Linked DNA regions of Homo sapiens: all the other regions are linked to region 3. Evidence: fine-mapped expression QTL. A gene starts in region 3. Each other region holds a variant in brackets. All regions are shown on one strand. Distances are between the middles of the regions. Region 1 overlaps PPP2R5E (protein phosphatase 2 regulatory subunit B'epsilon). Region 2 overlaps PPP2R5E (protein phosphatase 2 regulatory subunit B'epsilon). Region 3 holds the start of PPP2R5E (protein phosphatase 2 regulatory subunit B'epsilon).

The links.
Region 1: its variant is fine-mapped to the expression of PPP2R5E in esophagus mucosa (GTEx, PIP above 0.99). The same link has a PIP of 0.9 or more in unexposed skin.
Region 2: its variant is fine-mapped to the expression of PPP2R5E in blood mononuclear cells (TOPMed, PIP 0.96). The same link has a PIP of 0.9 or more in lung.

Annotation. Positions count from the first base shown.
Region 1 is chr14:63,496,719-63,504,905 of GRCh38, reverse strand. All of the region lies in intron 2 of PPP2R5E (protein phosphatase 2 regulatory subunit B'epsilon), which reads left to right. Among named protein-coding and RNA genes, the nearest start is that of PPP2R5E, 43 kb to the left of the region's middle. The variant T/C (reference allele first, on the strand shown) is at 4,989.
Region 2 is chr14:63,376,738-63,384,917 of GRCh38, reverse strand. It overlaps PPP2R5E (protein phosphatase 2 regulatory subunit B'epsilon), which reads left to right. Exons shown (of 14, transcript NM_006246.5): 12 at 347-474; 13 at 2,761-2,862. Among named protein-coding and RNA genes, the nearest start is that of GPHB5, 62 kb to the right of the region's middle. The variant TATTA/A (reference allele first, on the strand shown) is at 3,331.
Region 3 is chr14:63,538,313-63,546,499 of GRCh38, reverse strand. It overlaps PPP2R5E (protein phosphatase 2 regulatory subunit B'epsilon), which reads left to right and starts at 3,123. Exons shown (of 14, transcript NM_006246.5): 1 at 3,123-3,721; 2 at 6,808-6,971. The coding sequence starts at 6,815. It overlaps LOC112268140 (loricrin-like), which reads right to left and starts at 3,716. Exons shown (of 1, transcript NR_158218.1): 1 at 1,836-3,716. RefSeq lists enhancers at 1,641-1,720, 2,808-3,017, 2,080-3,071 and silencers at 3,308-3,447, 3,488-3,627.

The sequences.
Region 1 (8,187 bases), 42 kb after region 3:
CAGCATGGTATCATTCATTCATTCAGCAAACATTGCATTAGGAACTTGGCTAGATGCTGGAGTGACAAAGATGACCAAGACAGCATTTTTTTTTTAACAGTGTTTACTGAACACATATTTTATGCTATGCCCTGGGGGTAAAGGGTGACTAAGACGTGTAAGGCACTTGCATTCTACAGGCCATTGCTTTTCATGGGTATAGGTTTTCTCTCCCCAGTTAGACTGTAAGCCTTGTTTTTTGTATCTCATTCCCCCAAACATCTAATACGATGAGTAAATAGTTTCTCAAGCAGTACTTGATTGACTTCTTTTTCCTCTTTTTTTGAGGTGGAGTCTCACTCTGTCGCCGAGGCTGGAGTACAGTGGTGAGATCTCAGCTCACTGCAACCTCCGCCTCCTAGGTTCAAGCCATTTTCCTGCCTCAGCCTCCCAAGTAGCTGGGACTATAGGCGTGAGCCACCACGCCTGGCTAATATTTGTATTTTTAGTAGAGATGGGGTTTTGCCATGTTTGCCAGGCTGGTCTTGAACTCCTGACCTGAAGTGATCCTCCTGCCTTGGCCTCCCAAAGTGCTGGGATTACAGGTGTGAGCCACCGTGCCTGGCCAATTGACTTCTTGGGTGGGTTTTTTTTGTTTTTGTTTTTGCTTTTTTTTTGATTGCCAAGAAAAGTTTTGCTTGCCAAGAAAATGTGAGAGGTATTTGGAACTTTGAAATTTATAATCTATACAATACGTACAGGTCTTGGGCAAGTGGCTACTCAGGTGTTACGGTGGAAATAATCTATACCTGTGCCTGATTCTTGATTGGGAAGAAAAATTTGGAAGTAGTTTAGAGAGTGATTCAAAACTTCTCATATTCCCTAGCTCTTTTAATCTATTTCATTTCTGAATAATGAAGTGATGTATTCAAATTTTGCACTCAGAGGACACTGGCGTGTGATTTTGGGACTGCATGCTTAATCAGAACTTGAAAGAGTTTTTGTTTTGTTTGCTTTGCTTTTAAAACCAGGGTTCTGCCCTTCTTAGTAAAGCATATTTTGGGGCAGGGAGGCATACTGATTGGGATTTTTTCCAAATGGTTTTCCTCACATCTTGCCATCGGAACCTCTTAAATAAGGGCTTTCAAGGCCCCCATGCAATTCTGGTAGTTTCAGTATACCTAAGAGAAGACAGGTTATTAATGATTTTCAGATGTGAAATTCATTAAACTATATAGTAAATTAAAGTGCTTTTGGGGAAGGATAATAGTAGGGAGTATTGAAACAGAACATCTAAAACAACTGTCTTCCTTGCAGTGTTAACATGTGATATAAATGTGGTGTTTTTTGCCCTTACTGCTTGCCTTATGTTACCTCCTTTGCTCTGGAACAGTTGTTTTCAGACTTCAGTGGGCATAGGAATCACCTGAGAAATTGGTTGGAGTTGTTGATTTGCTATCTTTTACCTGGGGGATATGCAGTCCAGGTGGTTCAAATGCTTTTTGAGCAGACTGGATATTGCTTTGGCAGTGTCATAGTGCTTGTTTCTAACCTCTACATAGAGGCCTGTTCCTGCCTGTCACTCCACACCCCACGTTCTTCAATGGCCTCAGTGCCTTTGCTCTATTCATTCCTCCTAAGATGGAAATTCGTCTTCTGTCTCCTTAGGGCTCAGCTCAAGAGGAGGCCTTCCCAAGAAGCTTTGTCTAGTCTAGCTCACTCTGATGATGCCTTTCCCAAAATCCCTCTGTACATACAGTAGTTAAAAAAAAAATGGCTAACTTTCCCTGTTTGGCTCTTATAGTATGTAATTTTTTATTTATGGTCTGTATTGCTCATTGGACCATTCCTGTATATTGCACTGCTTTACTGGTTATCTTTCAAGGTTCCCATGTGCAACTTCAGAGGTTGTGCAGTGCATAATATTAATGTGCTAGTCCTCTGTCTTTGTATTTTTGTTTCTGAGATGAGGTTTCTTGCTATGTTGCCCAGGCTGGTCTCAAACTCCTGGGCACAAGTGATTTTCCTGCCTTGGCCTCGCAAAGTGCTGGGATTACAAGTGTAAGCCATTGCACCCGGCCTAGTTATTGACTATTACTATATTTCATGAGCTTTCAGACACCTTTTTCTGATAGTTTTCTACTGGTAGATTTGCTTTTATAAAATTTTATAAAATTTCAACATGGTAATATTTATCCTTCCTATAGATGGCATTTGGGTATTGTGGTGGGAGTGTTTTCTTTTTCTTTTTTATTTTTTTGAGATGGAGTCTTGCTCTGTCACCCAGACTTGAGTGCAGTGGCATGATCTCAGCTCACTGCAACCTCTGCTTCCCAGGTTCAAGCAATTCTCCTGCCTCAGTCTCCCGAGTAGCTGGGATTAGAGGCACACACCACCATGCCTGGCTAATTTTTGTATTTTTAATAGAGATGGGGTTTCACCAGGCTGGTGTCGAACTCCTGACCTCATGATTTGCCTGCCTCGGCCTCCTAAAGTTCTGGGATTACAGGCGTGAGCCACTGCATCCTGGCAAGTGGGAGTGTTTTCATTATGCCACCTTCTGTGGGGTCCTCATGGCAAGTGAGGTGTTGAGCAGGATGAATCTTGTCACCCTCAGGACTTCGAGAAGGGAAGTTAGGGGTGTCAGGAGGCCGGGCAGCACCTCCTGCCTCTAAGTCTGGTGCCCTCTGCTTCATGCTATGTAGATGGTTCCATTTAAAAAAACAACTTCCAGCTGGGTGCAGTGGCTCACATCTGTAATCCCACCACTTTGGGAGACCAGGGCAGGTGGATCACTTGAGGCCAGAAATTTGAGACCAGCTTGGCCTACATGGTGAAACCGCATCTCAACTAAAAATACAAAAATTAGCTGGGCGTGATGGTGCGTGCCTATAATCCCAGCTACTCGGGAGGCCGAGACAGAAGAATTGCTTGAACCTTGGAGGTGGAGGCTGCAGTGAGCTGAGATCTCGCCACTGCACTCCAGCCAGGCTGACAGAATAAAACCGTGTCTCAAAAAAATAAAAAATTAACAAAACTCTAATTTTTATTTGGAAATAATTTTAGACAAAGTAGCAAAAATAGAGAACTCAGATTGCTTCCCCTAATACTGGCAACTAACTGTCTTTTCCACTTTTTATTGCTGAGTATGGTTCCGTTTTGAATATATGTCACCACCATATTTTTTAACAGCTTTATTGAGACATAATTCACGTACTATACAGTTCACTCATCTAAAGTGTGCAATTCATTAGTTTTTAGTATGTTCACAGAGTTGTATAACCATCACCACAATCTATTTTTAGAACATTTTTATCACCTCAGAATGAAATTCTGTGCCCATTAGCAGTCACTCCTCATTCCTCTCGCTACCTTCTCTCTCCAGCTGCAGGCAATCACTAATCTACTTTAATCACTAATCTACTTTATGTATGTATCTCTGGATTTGCCTATTCTGGACATTTGATGTAAAATTTCCACCATCATTATATCTTATTAACATTTTCTTTTTTTTTTTTTTTTGAGACGGAGTCTTGCTCTGTCGCCCAGGCTGGAGTGCAGTGGCACTGTATCGGCTCACTGCAAGCTCCGCCTCCCGGGTTCACGCCATTCTCCTGCCTCAGCCTCTTGAGTAGCTGGGACTACAGGCGCTCGCCACCACGCCCGGCTAATTTTTTTTTGTATTTCTTTTAGTAGAGATGGAGTTTCACTGTGTTAGCCAGGATAGTCTCGATCTCCTGACCTGGTGATCTGCCCGCCTCGGCCTCCCAAAGTGCTGGGATTACAGGCATGAGCCACTGCGCCCGGCCCTTATTAACATTTTCTATGCAGATCCTGGCTCTCCCTCTTACAAGTGTCTGACTGTGGACTTGTCATTTAATTTGTCTCTACCTTGGTCTCCTGATTTGTAAAGTGGGAGATAATAATAGTATGTAGATGTAGAGTTGTAAGAATTAAATGAGTTAACATGTGGAAAGCACTTGGCTCCAATTTGTACTCTATAAATTTTAGCTGCTGTTACGCTAGGATGTCATAGTTTTTCTTTTTCTTTTTTTTTTTAGAGATGCGGTCTCACTCTGTCACCCAGGCTGATTGTGTAGTGGTGCAATCATAGCTTGCTGCCACCTTAAAATCCCAGGCTCGAGAGATCCTCCTGCCTCAGCCTCCTGAGTAGTTGGGACCACAGATGCACCACCATGCCTGGCAATTTTTAAAAATTTTCTTGTAGAGACGGCAGTCTTGCTATATTGCCTATCTATGTTGCTCTATTGTCTCAAACTCTTGGCCTCAAGAGATCCTCTTGCCGTGGCCTCCCAAAGCCCGCTGTGCCCACCCAGGGATCTGTCATATTTCTAATTGGTTCATTTATGGTCTTCCATATTGGTATTTACTGTTTCTGTGTCATTACCAGTTAACCATACAAGTATGTAACAATTATTCATATCAGTTTTATTATTTTGTCCTAAATCCTGAGTTTAGAATTTAGTCAATGTAAACGATTTCCTGTCACAAAGACTTAGCTGGTAAAAAGAACTGCAGCATTTGGCATTGTAAGTATGCATCTTCATTTGGCACCTTGGTGTATTTATTTGAATGAGAGGTGATGTACCCATCTGATTTAGTTAAAGTCAAAATAAATCTAGGGCGTCGGTTTCTGAAAACCAAGTTTTACTTTCATTAAAGTGAATTTCAAGAAAAGTTGCTTTTGAAACTAATTTTTTAAAAACACATTTATTTCTCATAGACTTTCAATATCAAAGGGGAGACAATATGTTCCTATAAGAAAAATTCATAGTGCCCAAAACATACCCATCACCACCCCCTCTATAGATGGGAAAACTGCTGAGGTTTAATTTGAGTGATGTGCAGGATAGTTAAATGAAGCTTGAGAAATACCTGTTTACAATAGTTACACATTGTCCAAATAATTTTCAGCATAAATAATGAGTCAAATCCAGATTAGGATGTGGCAGAGGGATTGTGAAATACCAGACAAAAAACTGGAGATA[T/C]TGGGCTAGGAACCAGAAGATCTGGGATCAGGACTTGCTACCAGTCAGCTGAATGACCCGGAGCAAGCCACTTAAGTTCTTTGGGCCAGTTTCCTCATCTGTAAAATGAGACAACTGGACTAGAATAGATGGTCTCTTGGGGCTTATCCAGAGCAAAAATTCCTTGGTTTCTTTCTTTTTTTTTTTTTTCTGAGATAGAATCCCAGTCTCTCTTCCAGGCTGGAGTGCAGTGGTGCGATCTCAGCTCAGTACAACCTCTGCCTCCCAGGTCCAAGTGATTCTCCTGCTTCAGCCTCCCGAGTAGCCGTGATTACAGGCACGCAGTGCCACCACGCCTGGCTAATTTTTGCATTTTTAGTAGAGACGGGTTTTGCCGTGTTGGCCAGGCTGGTCTCGAACTCCTGACTTCAGGTGATCCACCCACCTCGGCCTCCCAAAGTGCTGGGATTACAGGTGTGAGCCCCTGCACCCAGCCTTATTTCTCATAATAACAAGATACTACCAAATATTGATTAATTTAGAGAAATCTCTAAATTTGTGTTTTTGCTGCTCTTTTTCTCATCCTTATTACTGCCATAGCCCTTCTAGTTTCACAGTGAGGTGGCTATTTTATGATTTGTATTTTTACATTTCTGCTGTCATATATATTTTTCTCTCTTTTAGGCAGCTCTGACCTGTGATATGTTCAAAATTGTATTAAGGTTTTAGTTACAGATACTCTGGTTGGGTAGTGGAGCTCAAACCAAAACCAACCTTCTCTCTTTGGTGGTGGAAATGGAAGCTGGCACATTCTGTGTTCCAGTATGTCCTGGGGCCTTTTTATGAGTAGCTGCATTTCTTAAAAATTGCCTGTGATGAAGTAAACGTGCATATATAAATGATTTTCATGACTAATTTTGATTTTAAATTTGGAAATACAGTTTTATAGTGGGAAAACATTGGTACCTGACACACAATAAATTTTCACTTACGATTCCTAATATTTACTTTAAAGAGCCATTCTGCTTGTAACTAGGCAGTTTTATATTTCATAGTCTCTGCCAGTGGTTTCTAATTTTGGGCCACGAATGCTGGAGAGGTATATGAAGTTGTTATAAGGGATTTGATTATCCAAATGAACCCCTATCTGCAGACTGATTTGTACTGGTGTTTTCAGATGTATATAGGGATTTGTGACTAATGAAGAATTATTTAAGGCTGGATCAGTGGTTCATGCCTGTGATCCTAGCACTTTGTTAAGCCAAGGTGGGAGGATTACTTGAGCTTGGGGAAGTCGCGGCTGCAGTAAGCCATGTTTGTGCCATCTCGCTCCAGCCTGGGTGACAGAGTGAGACCCTGTCTGGGAAAAAAAAAAATTACTTAAAAGTACTTCCTGAATTCATAAAAATGTTTTGTTATTGTATTTTCTTTAGTGATATTAATGAAGATCCAAGACACTTAAAAACATTCCAAAGGTTCATACACACAAAACTTGAAAAACATCCTTTTCTAAAACCATGTCAAGCAAAGCATGATGTAGACTTAAAAAGAAAAAAAGAAAAGAAAAGAAATGATGTCAAGAGGTTAGTGAAGTGGACAGAGAGGTCAACCTGATAGTATACATTTGTTTAAAAGCATGCATATATTTTGTAGTTTCTTTTGTAAGTAGAACTTAGAGAATTTAAGCAATCTTTGCTTTTTCACTGAATAAAAACCACACTGTTTGTCTTTAGGACCTTAAGTCTCAAGAAAAAAACAAACATTTTAAAAATCCCTCAAGACTTGGTTGATACTACCTGAAAAAGCTCTCTAAATTACAAAGAAGAGATATTAAGTTCATTTCTGATAAGATGGTTAGTTTTGTTGACTGAATTGACATCATGCTCAAAATAAGACATAAGCTGTAGGAACTAAATTCAGTTATTGCCAGAAGTTCACCACATACCAAATGTATTATTCTAAGTGAATAAGAAAATGAGATTTATTGATATTATAATAGAAATATTGAACAGTAGAGAAGTGTGATGCCAGGTGATGCCACTAACGTGAGTATGCTTCTGGCCATTAAAGGAGGATGTTGTATGACATCTTGCATTAATCATTGATTTACCTTTCCACTTTCTGCATAAACCTTGAGCAGGTTCATGTGTTTTTTGTGTTTGTTTTTTTTTGTTTGTTTGTTTGTTTTTTTGAGATGGAGTCTCCCTCTGTCGCCCAGGCTGGAGCACACTGGTACAGTCTTGGCTCACTGCAACCTCTGCCTCCCAGTTTCAAGCGATTCTCCTGCCTCAGCCTCCTGAATAGCTGGGATTACAGGCATGTGCCACCATGTCCGGCTAATTTTTGTGTTTTTTGTAGAGACGGGTTTCACCATGTTGACCAGGCTGGTCTCGAACTCCTGACCTCAGGTGATCCACCTCTGCCTCCCAAAGTGCTAGAATTACAGGGGGGAGCCACTGCACCTGGCCAGGTTCATGTGTTTTTATACTCATTTAGTTACCCTGTATTTTTTTAGTTATCTTTGGAGATGGAAGAGGTGTGGATAATCCAGAGATGATGCTTGTAGTCAAGAAAGAGTAATTGTGGCCTTTTGATGGGGAGCCAAGTTTTATGAAATCCCACGGAGTCAGTCTTCAGATCCAGGGTTCTTAATTGGCTAGAGATCTTGCAAGTTATTTTGCCATGTTGTTTTTTGAAGGGAAAGGAAATACTGTCATACGTTTATGCATCTGTATATAAAATGGTTAGAAATGGTATCATATAGGTATTGCATGTTTGTGATCATAACTGCCTGAATAAAGGTTAAAATGTCATGGGAAAATGGGAAAACTTAAGCAGGAGGAAATAGAGATAGTTTATTTTTAGCAATTTAGAATGTTCCATTTAAAAGCAGTTAAACTGGCTAGAGCTGTGGGCAGGGGGAGGGGTACTGGGGTGGTTTAAAGGCCATAGCTATTATGGTGAGTGCCTGACATTTTGATTTGAAGTGTGTCTCTGCCTGTGTATTTTAGAACCAGAAAAATTCTTGGAAAACTACCTTTTTTTTTTTTTAAACTGTGTACCCAGATAAAATAGTTTGTTATTCCAAATCTAGAATTGAGATTTTAATTTTTATTAATTTTTATTTCTGTCAGTCTTTCAGGCATTTGGCTTCTTTGCTTATTCTTTTAAGATTTAAGTCGGAGAAGAAAAATCACATCCATTAGTTTTGATTACTCAG
Region 2 (8,180 bases), 160 kb after region 3:
TCGAGACCATCCTGGCCAATGTGGTGAAACCCCGCCTCTACTAAAAATACAAACATTAGCTAGGCATAGTGGCATGTGCCTGTAATCCCAGTTACTCGGGAGGCTGAGGCAGGAGAATCGCTTGAACCCGAGAGGCGGAGGTTGCAGAGAGCCGAGATCGCGCCACTAGCGAGACTCCCATCTCAAAAAATATATATATATTAAAATGTGATTAATATTTAATTTTACCTCTAATTGAATGATTTACAAATAGCCTTTTGAAATACTTTTGTTTGGAAAGATTTATAATTTTGTTTTATCTTTGTCTTTTTCTCTCTCTTAACATTTTATTTTTCTTTTCCCAAAGGTGGCAGAAAGAGCACTCTATTATTGGAATAATGAATACATCATGAGTTTGATAGAAGAAAACTCTAACGTCATCCTTCCCATCATGTTTTCCAGCCTTTATAGGATTTCAAAAGAACATTGGAATCCGTAGGTTTTCAGTTTCTTTCCTCCGTTCTCTTCCTCCCTTCCTCTCTTTCTTTCCCTTCAGCCTTATTATGTGCCAGATGCTGTCCTTGTTGCTGAAGACGTATGTGAAAAGATAAAATCCTTACCTTCTGGGGATTCACTGACTGGAGAAAATAAACAGATACTTTAACAAAATACCGGTTAAAGTATCTGTTTACTAGACAGGCTTCTTGATCTGTCTATGAAGGTAGCAGATCTTTTGGGGAGGCACTGCAGCTGAGAGGAGAGGTGTGTAGATACTGACAGCATGGCCATGCTTAGACTGAATCTGAAAGGAATTTGGCAGGTGGATGGCATGGGGAGAGCCCTTTCAGACAGTGGGTCCATCCATCATGTTAAAAGGCACAAAGATGTAAAAAGCAGCTGTCAGTTTCTGAGACCTGTGAGTTTGGGAGGGCTGAGGCACAAGGTCTTTTGGGGAGGGTGCTAGAGGATGTGGCTAGAAAAGACTGTGGGACTCGTGTGAGCCTTCACCAAGTAGATGATGAGGAAGTACTGAAGGGTTGTTAAGTGGGGAAGTGGTCTGACTAGGTTTTCATTTTAGTGTGATCTATTTAACAGCCAACTCAGTCGCTATATGTATCTCTTGGAAAGGAAGGAGTTTAAAATCATCAAGGGAAGTTTAACATCCAGCCCTATGAAAGTTAAAGCATTCTGAATTTGAATGCCTTTACATTTTTCTCTGTGGAATAGAAGGAAAATTTAATGTGGTATTTAAAAATTGGGAGATACAATTCAGTATATTCATAATATGTTTATCTTTAAAAATTTTGCATGTAATTATAAAATATCACATTTCTAATTTTTCAAATTTGCCTAATTATATTAATAGAACTTGTAAAAATAAGGAGCTGATAAACAGTTAAGTCCCTTTATACAGATAGTCTCTTGAGGACCTAGAGAACGGTTCTAGCAAGTGTCTGTAACTACTCAGTATACTACATTTGGTGCTTTCCCATCACTGCCCTTGGGAGGAAGGTCATTCTGGAACCTTAACAGAAAAGAACTTAAATTTTCCTTTTAATGGCACAAGGCAGAAGCTACACAGCAAGTGTACTTTCTTGTAAATGTTTTGGAAACATCAGACTCATGGTTTATTTAATATATGGCTAATTTTTACCAATGCATTTTTCAGTGGTATTAGGAGCATGTTTGTTGCAAAACGGAAGCAACGGATATTTTTGCAAAAGGAAAAGCTATTTAGACTCTAGTCTGAAGCTATCAAGCCCATCATAACCTTGTCCTCACATTGCCCAAGAGCTAATTCTTGTTAAGTATGGGCTACCATTTTGGCTGTTTAGCTGTATAGTGTCCCATAGCTAATAGCAACCATCCCAGCTTGCCAGTTATCAGCATATATTTTGGGTCAGCAGGACTGGTGCAGATCAGAGCTAGACAGATAATTCATATTGAACCACCCAACCTACATGAGGGCTTGATTTCATTTCTTTGGATAAGAATAATTTATATATATACACATATATATATAACATTTGTTTCTAGGGAAGTAGCTTCTGATTTTGATGAATTATGTGTTATTTAGAAAATAGAATTCTATGCAAATTCAGATGTCTAAGGTTAGTGCTATCACAGATCCTTATTTTAGGGTGAAATTGCTTTACTATTATACTTGCCTTTTTATTAAATGAAATTATCAAATGCCCACAGGCAGCTCTATTCTGGGTGCCAATAATTAGAAGGGCAGGCCAGGTGTGGTGGCTCACGCCTATAATCCCAGCACTTTGGGAGGCCGAGGCAGGCAGATCACCTGAGGTTGGGAGTTCGAGACCAGCCTGACCAACATGGAGAAACCTCGTCTCTACTAAAAATACAAAATTAGCCAGGTGTGGTGGCTCGCTTCTGTAATCCCAGCTACCCAGGAGACTGAGGCAGGAGAATTGCTTGAACCCAAGAGGCGGAGGTTGCGGTGAGCCAAGATGGTGCCATTGCACTCCAGCCTGGGCAACAAGAGCGAAACTCCGTTGCAAAAAAAAAAAAAAAGAAATTAGAAGGGCAAAGTTAGATTTTTTTTCTAGTTCTACCACCCCTCAGAAAATTATCTTGCCTTGAAATCTCTTGATGTGGAAATGAACTGTAGGTCATTTTCAGTTGTTCCAACTAAAAAAGGATACAGACAGTGTGCAGTACGAGAAATCATTCAGACAAAAGTTGTGCTTTTGCTTTCTTCATTCAGTATCCCATTTTATAAGACTAACTAACACACTCCTTTTTTTCTGTGCTTTCCAGGGCTATTGTGGCGTTGGTGTACAATGTGTTGAAGGCATTTATGGAAATGAACAGCACCATGTTTGACGAGCTGACAGCCACATACAAGTCAGATCGTCAGCGGTAACTTTTTAAAGCTTTTTTGTCAGCTGTGCATAAAGCTATTGAGTTTTTTCCTTGCTCTTTGCTGAAGTTGCCTAATTGTACCCCAAATCTTAAGCAGCACAATTTTGTTTACAGTCATGCATTACTTAACAACCAGTATATGTTCTGAGAAATGCATCCTTAGGCAATTGTATTGTGTGAACATCATAAGTATACAGTAATTACACAAACCTAGATGGTGTAGCCTACTATGACACACCTGAACTATGTAGTATTGCCTGTTCTTCCCAGGCTACAAACCTGTGGTGAATACCGTAGCCAATTGTAACACAAATCACTAGGCAGTAGGCCTTTTTCAACCCTGTTAAAATTTTATGGGACCACCGTGGTATATGTGGTCTGTGTTGACCGAAATGTTGTTATTTGGCACATGACTGTATTTATATATTCATTTTTGCACACTTATTAACTGTGTCTTTATTTATT[TATTA/A]CTGTGCCACTGAGTAACAAAGCTTCCTGACACTCATTTTGATAAAGCCCGCTTTCTTTCCTTTCTTTAATAATATTTCACTTCTGCCTCAGGGTTAAGAGCCCAGCATTTAACTGGTATTTTAGGTTCACTTAAAGGGACCATCAGGTAGTTTGCTCTCTGGGATTCACTCCCACTCTGAACTTACTTGAAGTATAATTGGGCAGATCTTGTACTTCACTCCAATAGCAGGGGGAATGAGGCACCATTTATCTAGCTCTTGGGCCCAGGACTTACTAGAACCCAACAAATTTATTACAATTTAAAGATCAGTGAAAAGAACATGAAGGTTAATAGTCTGGTATTAACCAGAAATGTTTGAGACCATATGGGAGAACAAACCAGTGGAACTCTTTGCAATAAATGCTTATGGCTTAGTAAAAATCTTGTCCAATGCATTCTACTTTCCAAAAGATGTACTTGGGGAGATTATAGAAGTCTAGAGAGCTCTTAGTAGTTGCGCCTGTGGTTTGGCTTTGATCATCCATAAGCAGATGTCAGCTTTGTATATCATAAAGCTATGGACCTTAGAGGACCCAGAGATGTGTGCGAGTGTTCATACCCAGGGTCTTGCTGAACCTCTCTGGTTCCCTTGGTGCTTTGCTTTGTCTCATTTTTAGTCTGTCAACTTGCATTTTATTGATAAAAAGAGCAATGAGGGGAAAGGTTTGATGGCAGAGGGACCATTGCAATGATTTTTTTGTTTTAAGTTACCAGGGATGTGGTTTATGAAAACCAACTTAATTATGGAATGTGGTGAGTATTTAGCTGAGAATCTCAGAAGAGGCTGGGATTTTTTACCCAGAATATTGGGATTATTATCAATTATGGGATATGTTATTCCATACTCACAGTTTAAACAACTTTTTTTTTTTTGTTTTTTGAGATGGAGTCTTGCTCTGTTGCCCAGGCTGGAGTGCAGTGGCGCGATCTCAGCTCACTGCAAGCTCCGCCTCCCAGGTTCATGCCATTCTCCTGCCTCAGCCTCCTAAGTAGCTGGGACTACAAGCACCCGCCACCACGCCTGGCTAATTTTTTGTATTTTTACTAGAGACAGGGTTTCACTGTGCTAGTCAGGATGGTCTCGATCTCCTGACCTCATGATCCACCTGCCTCGGCCTCCCAAAGTGCTGGGATTACAGGCGTAAGCCACCGCGCCCAGCCCTAAACAACTTTTAATTCAGTATATTAGCGATTGTTGCAAATTATAAATTTATGATAACCCTCCTTGCCCCAAACTTAAAATCTTTAAAGGATGTTACTTAAAAAAACGGCCAAGGGTACATTTTAATACTGTGTTGCATCGTTAAAGGTGCTTTGTGCATAACATCTTCTCTGAAAGCACATTATTATTATCCTAGTTGAACCAGGATTAAATCCGTAGAATCTCATCAAGAATATTGAAGAACTTGGCTGGGCACGGTAGCTCACGCCTGTAATCCCATCACTTTGGGAGGCTGAGGCGGGCGGGTCATCTGAGGTCAGGAGTTCGAGACCATCCTGGCCGAATGGTGAAACCCTGTCTCTACTAAAAGTATGAAAATTAGCCAGGCACGGTGGCATGCGCTTGTGGTCCCAGCTACTAGGGAGACTGAGTTGGGAGGGTCAGTTGAACCCGGGAGGTGGAGGTTGCAGTGAGCTAAGATCATGCCACTGTACTCCAGCTTGGACATTGGAGTGAGACTCTGTCTCAAAAAAAAAAAAAAAAAAAAAAAAAAGAGAGAGAATATTGAAGAACAACTTATTTCCACTCAAATTATTTGGTTTGTATTTAGTGAACTTCAATAATAAAACTATTTTCTGGTTATTATCTAAACTAAATAGACTAAACCCTTGAAAAAGATGAGAATTAACTAAGGGGACCAGGAATAGATAAAACTATTATTTTATCTATTCCTGGTTGAGGTTGATTATGATATTCTGGCATATTACAGTTATTTATAATGAGTGTACTTTCTTAATGAGAAAATGGGGGCCAGGCGTAGTGGCTCACGCCTGTAATCGCAGCACTTTGGGAGGCCAAGGCAGGCGGATCACCTGAGGTTGGGAATTTGCGACCAGCCTGACCAACATGGAGAAACTCCATCTCTACTAAAAAATACAAAATTAGCCGGGCGTGGAGGCACATGCCTGTAATCCCAGCTACTCAGGAGGCTGAGGCAGGAGAATCACTTGAACCCGGGAAGGGGAGGTTGCCATGAGCAGAGATTGCATCATTGTACTCCAGCCTGGGCAACAAGAGGAATCCCAGCTCTTTGGGAGGCCGAGGCGGGCGGATCACGAGGTTAGGAGATCGAGACCATCCTGGCTAACATGGTGAAACCCCGTCTCTACTAAAACTACAAAAAATTAGCAGGGCGTGGTGGCGGGTGCCTGTAGTCCCAGCTACTCGGGAGGGTGAGGCAGGAGAATGGCGTGAACCCAGGAGGCAGAGCTTGCAGTGAGCCGAGATTACACCACTGCACTCCAGCCTGGGCGACAGAGCGAGACTCCGTCTCGAAAAAAAAAAAAAAGAAAATGGGTTTTTAAAAGCAAGAATAATAATTTGTCAAATGAGCAATAGAAGGGTGTACTGACAGATGGAAACATTGGTTTCTCCATAGGTGTGGGAATAGGACAAGGGAATGAAGAAATTTAGTTGGTACTGTCAGAGAATAACTGAATGGACAATTTTACTTCAGGATGGCAAGAAGTTAATGGTTTCAGTTCAGATCAAATTTTGAAGTATTACAAATCTGAAAATGGTGGGTGGAATAAGTACTTAACACTGTTAGATACATATGCCAACATTAGTGCTATGTAAAATTGAAATTAGAAGAGAATTTGACAATATCCCCTGCATGACAGTGTGGTTAAGCGTTAAAATTTCCACCTACAGGGAGAGAGAAAAGTGGGAAAGATTGGGGGTGACAATAACTGTGTCAGCAATATTTAGGATTTTTAAAGATAGAGTTGTCAGTATGAAAGCCGTGTGATAACTGAGCATAATGCTCAGTTGGAGGAAAAGCCCAACAGGATAAATTGCATTGAGTGCCATATTTGATCAAAAACATGAAACACTTTAGTAACAAGATGATGAATGTTTTAATGATGTCAACACTTAATTAACCAATTTATGCCTAGTGTTCCATTATTGGAACGCTAAGCTTGTGGGAGTTATTTCTATCCCACTGCTCAAGGTCATCGTCAAGGTCTGATTTTTCACAAGAAAGTTTTACAACCTCTGGCATAAATGGGTTAAAACTGCAAATTAGGGCAATGTGAACCTGAAATACATTGAAATGTTTTTTAGTTGAGTAAAATTCCAAGCCCTTGCTTACCATCCCCTTATCTCTCCAAATAAAAAGGTCATATTCATCGAAAGTCAGCAGGATCTATACAATTGATTTATATATACCCAAATTGTGTTTTTTGCTAACATTGATTTAGACCTCATAATTATTCCCAGACTGTACTGAGAAACAAAAAGTGATAATTTGTCAAACAGCTTGATTATGTTTAGAATCTGGAATGCACCAGGAGTGGTGGTGCACACCTGTAGTCCCAGCCACTCAGGAGGCTGAGGCAAGAGGATTGCTTGAGCCCAGGTGATTGAGGCTACAGTGAGCTATGATTGTGCCACTGCACTTTAGCCTGAGCAACAGAATGAGACCCTGACTCTAAGAAAAGAACAAAAGCAAAAACAAAAAAGCCAGAAGAAGATTGGAGGATTATCTAATCTTGCCCTTATTGTCCTATAAGTGCAATTTTTTCAGGGTCAAAATTAACAAATAGGTAATTTTATGAAAACTAGTCTGCTTACTGAAATTTATATTGTGCAGATTTGTATTTGAGATAGCTGAAACTAATTATGGTAAACAAGGCCTAAGTTATGAAAATATTACCTATTAGATCATGATATTAATTACCATATGGCTTTACTAAGCCATAAACATTTATTGTAAAGAGTTCCACTGGTTTGTGCTCCCATATGGTCTTAAACATTTCTGGTTAATACCAGACTATTATGGCATTATAATTCAACATTTCCTCAAGTCTCTAGTGGAATAAGAATATAAAATTACTTAGGTTTTTCTTGAGTTTTTTGGGAGTTGGAGGGGATGAAGATTAATCTCTATTGCTCTAGATATTAATATAACTTTTAAAAAACATTGGTTATAATGTTTTAAAAAAAATGAGGCATTGGAATTACATACAAATTTCACTCAACCCATGTGGATTTCCCTGCGTAGAAATTGTACTGTGGCTGAAGTTTTAATCCTTGCTAAGTGGGGTAGTGCATGGATTACATCCCCATGCCTGAGATGGTGGAGCCCCCATTTTCAGGAATTATCTGAATTCCTGGATTTATGAATGTTAATCTGGATCAGCATTTTTTTTTTTTTATTTTTTTTTGGAGACGGAGTCTTGCTCTGTCCCCCAGACTGGAGTGCAGTGGTGTGATCTCGGCTCGCTGCAATCTCCGTCCACCACAATCTCCGCCCCCCGGGTTCAAGCGATTCTCCTGACTCAGCCTCCCAAGTAGCTGGGACTCTAGGCATACGCCACCATGCCCGGCTAATTTTTGTATTTTTAGTAGAGACGGGGTCTCACTGATGATCCACCCGCCTCGGCCTCCCAAAGTGCTAGGATTACAGGCGTGAGCCACTGCGCCCAGCCTGGGTCTGCTTTTTATTGGTTCGCTGCAACATGGAAAAAAACCAGAGACAGTGTAGTGAATTATTTTTAGTAAATGTGAATTTATATAACTTACAATATAGTCTTATATTCCTGCATCATGTACTTCCTACTTGGTTGATGTTAAAAA
Region 3 (8,187 bases):
TTTGTCCATAAAGTATAGACATACGCTACCATCATTAGCTTAACTCAATCAACATATACACTTAGAATGAAGTTCAATTCTTAATAACAGTGGATGTAGGCTGGGTGCAGTGGCTCACGCCTGTAATCCCAGCACTTTGGGGGGTCGAGTGGGGTGGATCATTTGAGGTCAGGAGTTCGAGACCAGCCTGGCCAACATGGTGAAACCCCGTCTCTACTTAAAATACAAAAATTAGCCAGGTGTACATGCCTGTAATCCCAGCTACTTGGGAGGCTGAGGCAGAAGGATTGCTTGAACCCGGGAGGTGAAGGTTGCAGTGAGTCGTTTGCGCCACTGTACTCCAGCCTGGGCGACAAAGCGAGACTCCATCTCAAACAACAACAACAACAACAACAACAACAACAACAACAACAACAACAACAACAGTGGATGTAAATTTACATTTCAAGTAGCCTTGATTTTTTTTCTAGTCAAAATTTGATTGAATTTATTAGATTGGTATTTTACTTTTGAAAAGTGGCTGTCAAAGATTTGATACTGGGCTGGGTGTGGTGGCTCATGCCTGTAATCCCAGCACTTTGGGAGACCGAGGCGGGTGGATCACAAGGTCAGGAGTTTGAGAACAGCCTGGCCAACATGGTGAAACCCCGTCTCTACTAAAAATACCAAAAAAAAAAAAAAAAAAAGAAAAAAAAGATTTGATACTGAAGAGTCAGTTCTAACATTTTCTTCTTGTTCTCCCGTGGTTTATTTGCAAAGGACTCATAGAGTCATTTGTCTGTTTTATGAGGGTTAGTTTAATTAAACTTAGATAATATAATCAGTAAGTCCACTTAGTTGAATCCAGAAACTGCAATAAGAAACCGCAATAAGTCATATGTTGTCAGGGGCTGATTGGGTGGGCCCACCACTGCCAACCCCTAGGAATGGGTAACTCCCACTTTTCCCTGAGGACATCTCCTATGCTGTTCTAGGCCAAGGCACCATTCCATGGACTGAGGGCAGAGCCATTCACTCTATATAAAATAGTAGTTGACCGTAATGCCTTTTAGATTAAAATTAAATGTAAATATATTTCCTAATACTTTCTTTTACTGCATCCGAAATAGATTGTCTTGCACTATTCTTGGAGTACCGAAATCCCTGGGATACATGGGAGAAATTACTGGTCCAGAGAACAATTTCTCACATAGGCAAGGATGTTTCCATTTTAAAAAACCTGCTCATTTCAGTTGCTCAGCCATTTTATAGAAAGTGAAATGACTTTGAAATGAATTGTCTTTATAGAGATCCATAATTTGCAAGCAAAATCCCCACTCTATGACATGTTCTAAGCAACAGCTGTGAGAATTTCAAACGTGCACTATGCTTTTAACAGTTCAACTGTTGCCAAGGGAAATTGAATTGGCTTCAAAATCTTCCTTGGTTTTAATTCTGAATTTACCCTCAATCAAAGATTGAAGAAAACAGGTCCTTGGCTGGGACACTGAACTTTCATGAAGACTGTACAGGATATTGAGATATGGAAAATTTAAGGTTCTTGAGGGTAGGAACTAGACTGCTGGTATTCTATAGTTCATACTTAGTGGTGATGAACTTTATCACGGCAAAAGTGGGCACTAGCCATACAGTGGCCAATCATCTGGAGTCAGTAGGGGGAGACTGCTTCCATCTAAGAGTCATCTTTTCGTTTTCCATTTCAGTTCAAAGCAGGAATATTTTTATCTTTCATGGCACAAAATTATTTTTCCACTCAAGAGCCATTTCTGGGAGTGTGCAAAGAAAATTTCAAAACTCTAGTGTTTAACAACACAAACAGGAGAAATGCAAATGCATTTTTCGTTGTCACTTGTACATATGGTACATATAGTTTTATTTATATATAGCTCTATTCCCTAACCGTATCGAAAAGATGATATAATGCTGAGGGAAAAAACTAGGCTACAGATCGACACACATTATTAACATAAAGAGAAAAAATACTAAAAGGAAGTATGCAAATACTGTAAGTGGTTATCTCTGAGTTGAGAAAATAAGAATGTTAATTTTTTTGTCCCCCCCCCCAATTTCTAAGTTTTGAACAACTGGTACTCTGACGTTTGTAGTTAGCATTAATAATTTCTTTCTTCCTTTTTTCCTCTCAAAAAATGTACGTAGGGTGCATTCAAATACATTAATCCAAGAATATTATCTGGAAATGTACCATTTGGCCGTCTGCATTCACCAAGCATGCAAACACATCTCCAAATATCTCATCACTTGTTCTAGATAGATTTAAGTAGTCTTCTCCATTAACTCTTTCGGGTCCAACTTGCCAATTAAAATCTCGAAACTCCTAGTTTGGAGCTGGGTCTTTCCGAGCTCTGAGCAGTCGGCTGACTGGCGGGTTATTCTGAATGAATAGACTGCAAACTGTGGCGACAGCGTTCCCACCTGCATTAATTAAACGAGCGCTGGCTTCAACGCTACAGGGGTCTGATATTCAAAACAGACGTTTAAGGAAAAGGAGATGAGGTGAGAGAAAATTCGAAGAAGGTTCAGCGGAGAGCGACTGCTGGGGGTTTCAAGGGGCCCATTTACACAAGCAGTGGCACACCGGCACGGGCGGGGGATCTTATTCCTGCCTACGCATCACAGGGTCCCGTCCAGAGTGGGACTCCCCAAACCCTGAGGGGCCACACTAGCTGCAGGGCGGGATCAAGTCTCCGGGGCTCCCCGACCCTTAGACGACCCGAGCCCTTGGAATCCTCCGGTCCAAGACGACCGCCGCCCAAAGGCTCCGCACAGCACGGAAAGCCAGCCCGCTGATCCGCTAGTCGCACACCTCCCGGAATTAAAGAGCTCCTCTCAGGCCCAGCGGCTTCTCACTTCAGCTTGCCCCACTGCCGGGCGGAAGCGGCGGCTGCACCGCCCGAGATCGCGGCTGCATCCGGGTTCCTCAAGCTTCGGCCCAATCCTCGACCTTCTCTCTTCCCACCCTCCCGTTTCTCCGCCCTCCTGCCGCCAATCCCTGATCAGGTCTCAGCCGAACATGCTGTCAGGGGAGTGAAGGCGGATACTGGCCAATGAGGCCTCGCTTCCCGTTTGAAGTCTCCAGTGGGCGGGCGCCGGAGGCGGGCGCTGCTGGCCAGAAGGTTCGGTTGCGCGTGTGCCATGGACTCAGCCGCCCGGTGATATTGACAATAGGAGAGAGAAAGGGGCATTGACTGGGACCCACCGCGGGTAGCGAAAGGTGGCTCTGGCAGCGGCGGCTCCAGCTCCTGCGGCTCCTCCTCCTTATTCTGTCCCCTTCTCTTGCTGCCGCTGCAGATCCAGTCTTCCTCCCTCCCTTCCCCCCCTCCCCACGTCGTCGCCGCCGCCGCCGGGTCCGGGGCAACGAGCTGAGGCGCCGCCCGCCAGGAATGTGAGCGAGGAGCCACCGGCGGAGCCGCAACGGGGTCGGTGCCGATTTGATGGGACGGGCCCGCGGGGGAGGATCGTGAGGCCGCCGCCGCCACCGGAACGCTGAGGTTCGGGTCCGGCCGTGAGGCCTAGAGGCTCCGCCGCCGCGGAACCGGAGGGACCCCGTACCGGACAGCCGTCGCCCCAGGCTCCCCGCAGCTGCCCGGACCTCCCCCTGCACGTCCCGGTCCCGCCGCCCGCCCCCGCTGCGGCCACCTCGCCCGTCTCCCGCCCCTCCAAGCCACAGATCATCTTTGGATTCTTCCCCAGAAGCTTCAAGGTAACTTAGTCCCTCCAGCACCGCGGCTCGCCCGCTTCCCTTCTTCCTCCCGGTCCTCCTGGGGAACCTATGGGGCACCGGCCTTGGGAAGGCCTGGCCGGGCAGGCGAGGGGTGCGGTGGGGTGGGGTGCGGGAGCGGGAGCGCCCGTCCCACTTGTCTGATTTACCTACAAATGCTTCTGATGATACCTCTCATTCACTCTGCCCCCTCCCCCCTTTTTCTCCACCTTCTGGGATTGGAGGCGTTTTCTTGCCCCCCTTTATCCACTGGCGGGGGCGGGGAATAAAGAGGGGTTTGGTGTGAGGAGGATTCTCTAGCAGCTTATCGTCTCCAGGGCTTGGGGTGTGGGTTAGGAGCAAAGGGAGTATGTAAGCATCCCCACAGACAAACCCCTTCCCTGTCTTTCCCTACTTCCCCTTACCCCCTTTGGATTATCCTGAGCCATGGAAATGCCCCATGCCTGCTGATTAGAGGATGATAAAGCTTCGGGAGCCCTGGCCCAGGGCGAAACCTGTTTCCCTGGGCTTTGCACGGACCCGCTGTTACCTTACGTTCAGTTTTGCAGTGCTTCAGGGTTGCGATCCTTGACGTTTATTCTGGGCCTCGGGCATAAGGGGTAAATGATTTTTTTAAAAGCTACCTATATATCGTCTGTAGAGATGAGAGATAAGGAATAAAGAAGAGACGAAAAGAGTGATGGAGGAAGAGGATTTACTGAAATGTTGTAGTGTTAGAGTTAGAGTGAAGTCTAAATAATTCACATACCCGAATGGAAAATCGGCCCCTAAATTTACAACGTACAAATAAGATGTGGAGCTTTTGGCTGATGCAGTCATTTTGATATTTTAAAGTGATCTTAACATCTATAGTCATTCATAGTTTGTGATTCTATTTTGAATCCATCACATTATATTAAGGCTAAATTAGGTAGATTTTTAAAAACTTTTTTTTTTTTAAAGAAAACCAAAGAAGACTTCCAAATTCCAAACGTCAACATCATATGTGTGCATGTGTTTTAAAATGTTTTTGTTATTTTTACATTGTCAAAATCCACGTAATCCAGGTAACTTTTTATTCTCACGTGTTCAGGAAGAAATTCCCTTACTGTTTTATTTAGAAGTTAAAAACCACTTGTCTTGTCTATTGGAATGACAGGTGAGTAATTGCATTTCAGCATTTCCCCCATATGCATTCTTTCTATCCGAGTCTGCCATTAGTCTTGCATGAAGCCTCAGTGCCATGGAAATGATGGCATCTGTTTAATTTGGTGAATGAAATTAAGCTTAACGCTTGTTACTTTCAGGAAATAGCCTTCATTTTAATAACTCGAGAGGGTTAAACAATTCAAAAGTGCTATTCAGTTCCGTAAGTTTGATGGAATGAAAATTGGTATTTGATGATGAACTTCAAGGTCTAAACCTCAAGGGAACTCAACTTGGTTGTTTCAGTAGGCTGTGAATTTATGTTTTCAGTTCAACTTTGGTGCTTGATTTTCTCATAGTTTTTATTAAGCGTTAATAACGTAAGGTGGCTTCATTCAAAAAGAAGACTTATTTGAAATATTTTAATTATGCCTTTTATGTGTTTTGTTTAAAGTAATCTAGCCTGTCCTCATTTGCAGTGTGGTATAGTTTATCATAGCTAACATAGCACATCCCATTAAAAGTTATGCCTAGATAGTTTCAGTAGTAGTAAATTTCACCTTGCTGTGATACATTGGTATAGATTCTTGAAGTACACTAAGGGTTTTTCAACTCCAGAACCCATTCATAATATTAAGTATCTTGGGAAAATGTATCAATGGAAGTTTTCCAGTTACAGAATAGCTCCAAAAATTACTTGAAGATGTGAAGAGCTTTGCAGTTAGAAAATGGGCAGGCAGCATAGATTTCTTTAAGCCTAGATGAGTATCTTTAATGCTTATAATGGAGTGGCACAATACATTAGAGTTCTCATATTGTTTCCGTGATACTTAAATTATTTTCACTAAATTTTCATGTTTTCCTGTTAACATATGACTTTTCTTTTCTTTGTTTGTTTCTTTTTTTTTTTTTTGAGAAGGAGTTTTCCTCTTGCTGCCCAGGCTGGAGTGCAATGGCATGATCTTGGCTCACCACAACTCCGCCTCCCGGGTTCAAGTGATTCTCCTGCCTCAGCCTCCCGAGTAGCTGGGATTACAGGCATGCGCCACCATGCCTGGCTAATTTTTGTATTTTTTTTTTTTTATTAGAGATGGGGTTTCTCCATGTTGGTCAGGCTGGTCTCGAACTCCCAACCTGAAGTTATCTGCCCGCCTTGGGATTACGGGTGTGTGCCACTGTGCCTGGCTTTTTTTTTTTTTTTTTTTGAGATGGACTCTTGCTCTGTTGCCCAGGCTGGAGTGCAGTGGTGCCATCTTGGCTCACCGCAACCTCCGCCTCCCAGGTTCAAGCGGTTCTCCCTTCTCAGCCTCTTGAGTAGCTGAGATTACAGGTGCATGCCACTGCGCCTGGCTAATTTTTGTATTTTTAGTAGACACAGGGTTTCACCATGTTGGCCAGGCTAGTCTCGAACTCCTGACCTCAAGTGATCCACCCACCTCGGCCTCCCAAAGTGCTGGGATTACAGGTGTGAGCCACCGGGCCCAGCCCTTTTTTTTTTTTTTTTTAAAGGACGGAATCTCACTCTGTCACTCAGGCTGGATGGAGTGCAATGGCGGGATCCTGGCCCACTGCAACCTCCACCTCCCAGGTTCAAGCGATTCTTTCACCTCAGCCTCCCGGGTAGCTGAGATTACAAGCACCTGCCATCATGCCCGGCTAATTTTTGTAATTTTGTAGAGACTGAATTTCACCATGTTGTCCAGGTTGGTCTTGAACTCCTGACCTCAAGTGATCCACCCATCTCAGCCTCCCAAAGTGCTGGGATTACAGGCGTGAGCCATTGCACCTGGCCAAGATAAGACTTTTCTTAACTGATTTTATTTTCTTTAGCACATATTCCCATTTTCATGAATATTGTATATGGGAATTTTAGAATTTGTATAACTCACATGTATGCTTCCACCTTGGGAATGTATGGGTTTATGATACTTCTTTCTCTTCAGTAGGGATATGTCCTCAGCACCAACTACTCCTCCATCAGTGGATAAAGTAGACGGATTTTCTCGGAAGTCCGTCAGAAAAGCCAGACAGAAGAGGTCGCAAAGTTCCTCACAGTTTAGGTCTCAAGGCAAGCCTATTGAGTTAACACCTCTGCCGCTGCTAAAAGGTAAGGCTCATGACCAGGTGATGCATTCTTTTTCAATTGATCTTTCTACATCTATATATAATTTCCTTTTTGTAGAGTTTTATATGTGTTGCAAATTGAAGGGATGGGATACTTCACATACATTGAAGTTACTAATGTGTGACCAAATATACCCACTCTCCTTTTTAAAGGCTCAATTTAGTCTGTCTTTGGGCAAGTTAAAAGAAACATTATCAGGAGAATATCTCACATTGATGAGTAGGTAAACTAAGTACTAGAGAAACTTTAAGATGTCTGGGTTTGTGTTTTTCATTTTTTCTTCTGTTGACGTTTAGGGATACATTATATACAATGACAACTACAGATTATGGTCTTAGGAAGTAGACCCTAGTAGAGGAGATGGTACCATTCATTAATTTACATATAGAAAATGGTATTTGGAAGAATTCGTTTTTAAAAATCAAGAAAAAAATGGTCCATTTATAGTTGTTTACATGCACTCTTGTTTTCACATAGTACAAGTAGAAAAGATATACCTTTCTATGTACAAGTATGATGATCATACTTGTTTAGTATGATCTTTTCTTTGAAATTTGTTAATTTTTTAATTTTAATTTTTATCTTTTGAGATAGAGTCTCCCTCTGTTGCTCAGGCTGGTTCACAGCAACCTCCACCTCCTGGGTTCAAGTGATTTTCCTGCCTCAGCTTCCCGAGTAGCTGGGAGCACAGGTGCCCGCCACCATGCCCAGCTAATTTTTGTATTTTTAATAGAGACAGGGTTTCACCATGTTGGTCAGGCTGGTCTTGAACTCCTGACCCCAAGTGATCTGCCCACCTTGACCTCCCAAAGTGCTGGGATTACAGGTGTGAGCCACCGTGCCTGGCCTGAAATTTGTTAAAAACAAGTTTTTTGGTTTTTTAAATTTTCTTTTGAGACAATCTCATGCTGTCACTCTGGCTAGAGTTCAGTGGGGACAGAGTGAAAGTGCAGGTTGAGGCCGGGCGTGGTGGCTCACGCCTGTAATCCCAGCACTTTGGGAGCCCGAGGCAGGCAGATCACGAGGTCAGGAGTTTGAGACCAGCCTGGCCAACATGGTGAAACCCTGTCTCTTCTAAAAATACAAAAATTAGGCGCGGTGGTGGCACCTGTAATCCCAGCTACTCGGGAAGCCGAGGCAGGAGAATTGCTTGAACCGGGAGGCAGAGGTTGAAGTGAGCCCAGATCGTGCCATTGCA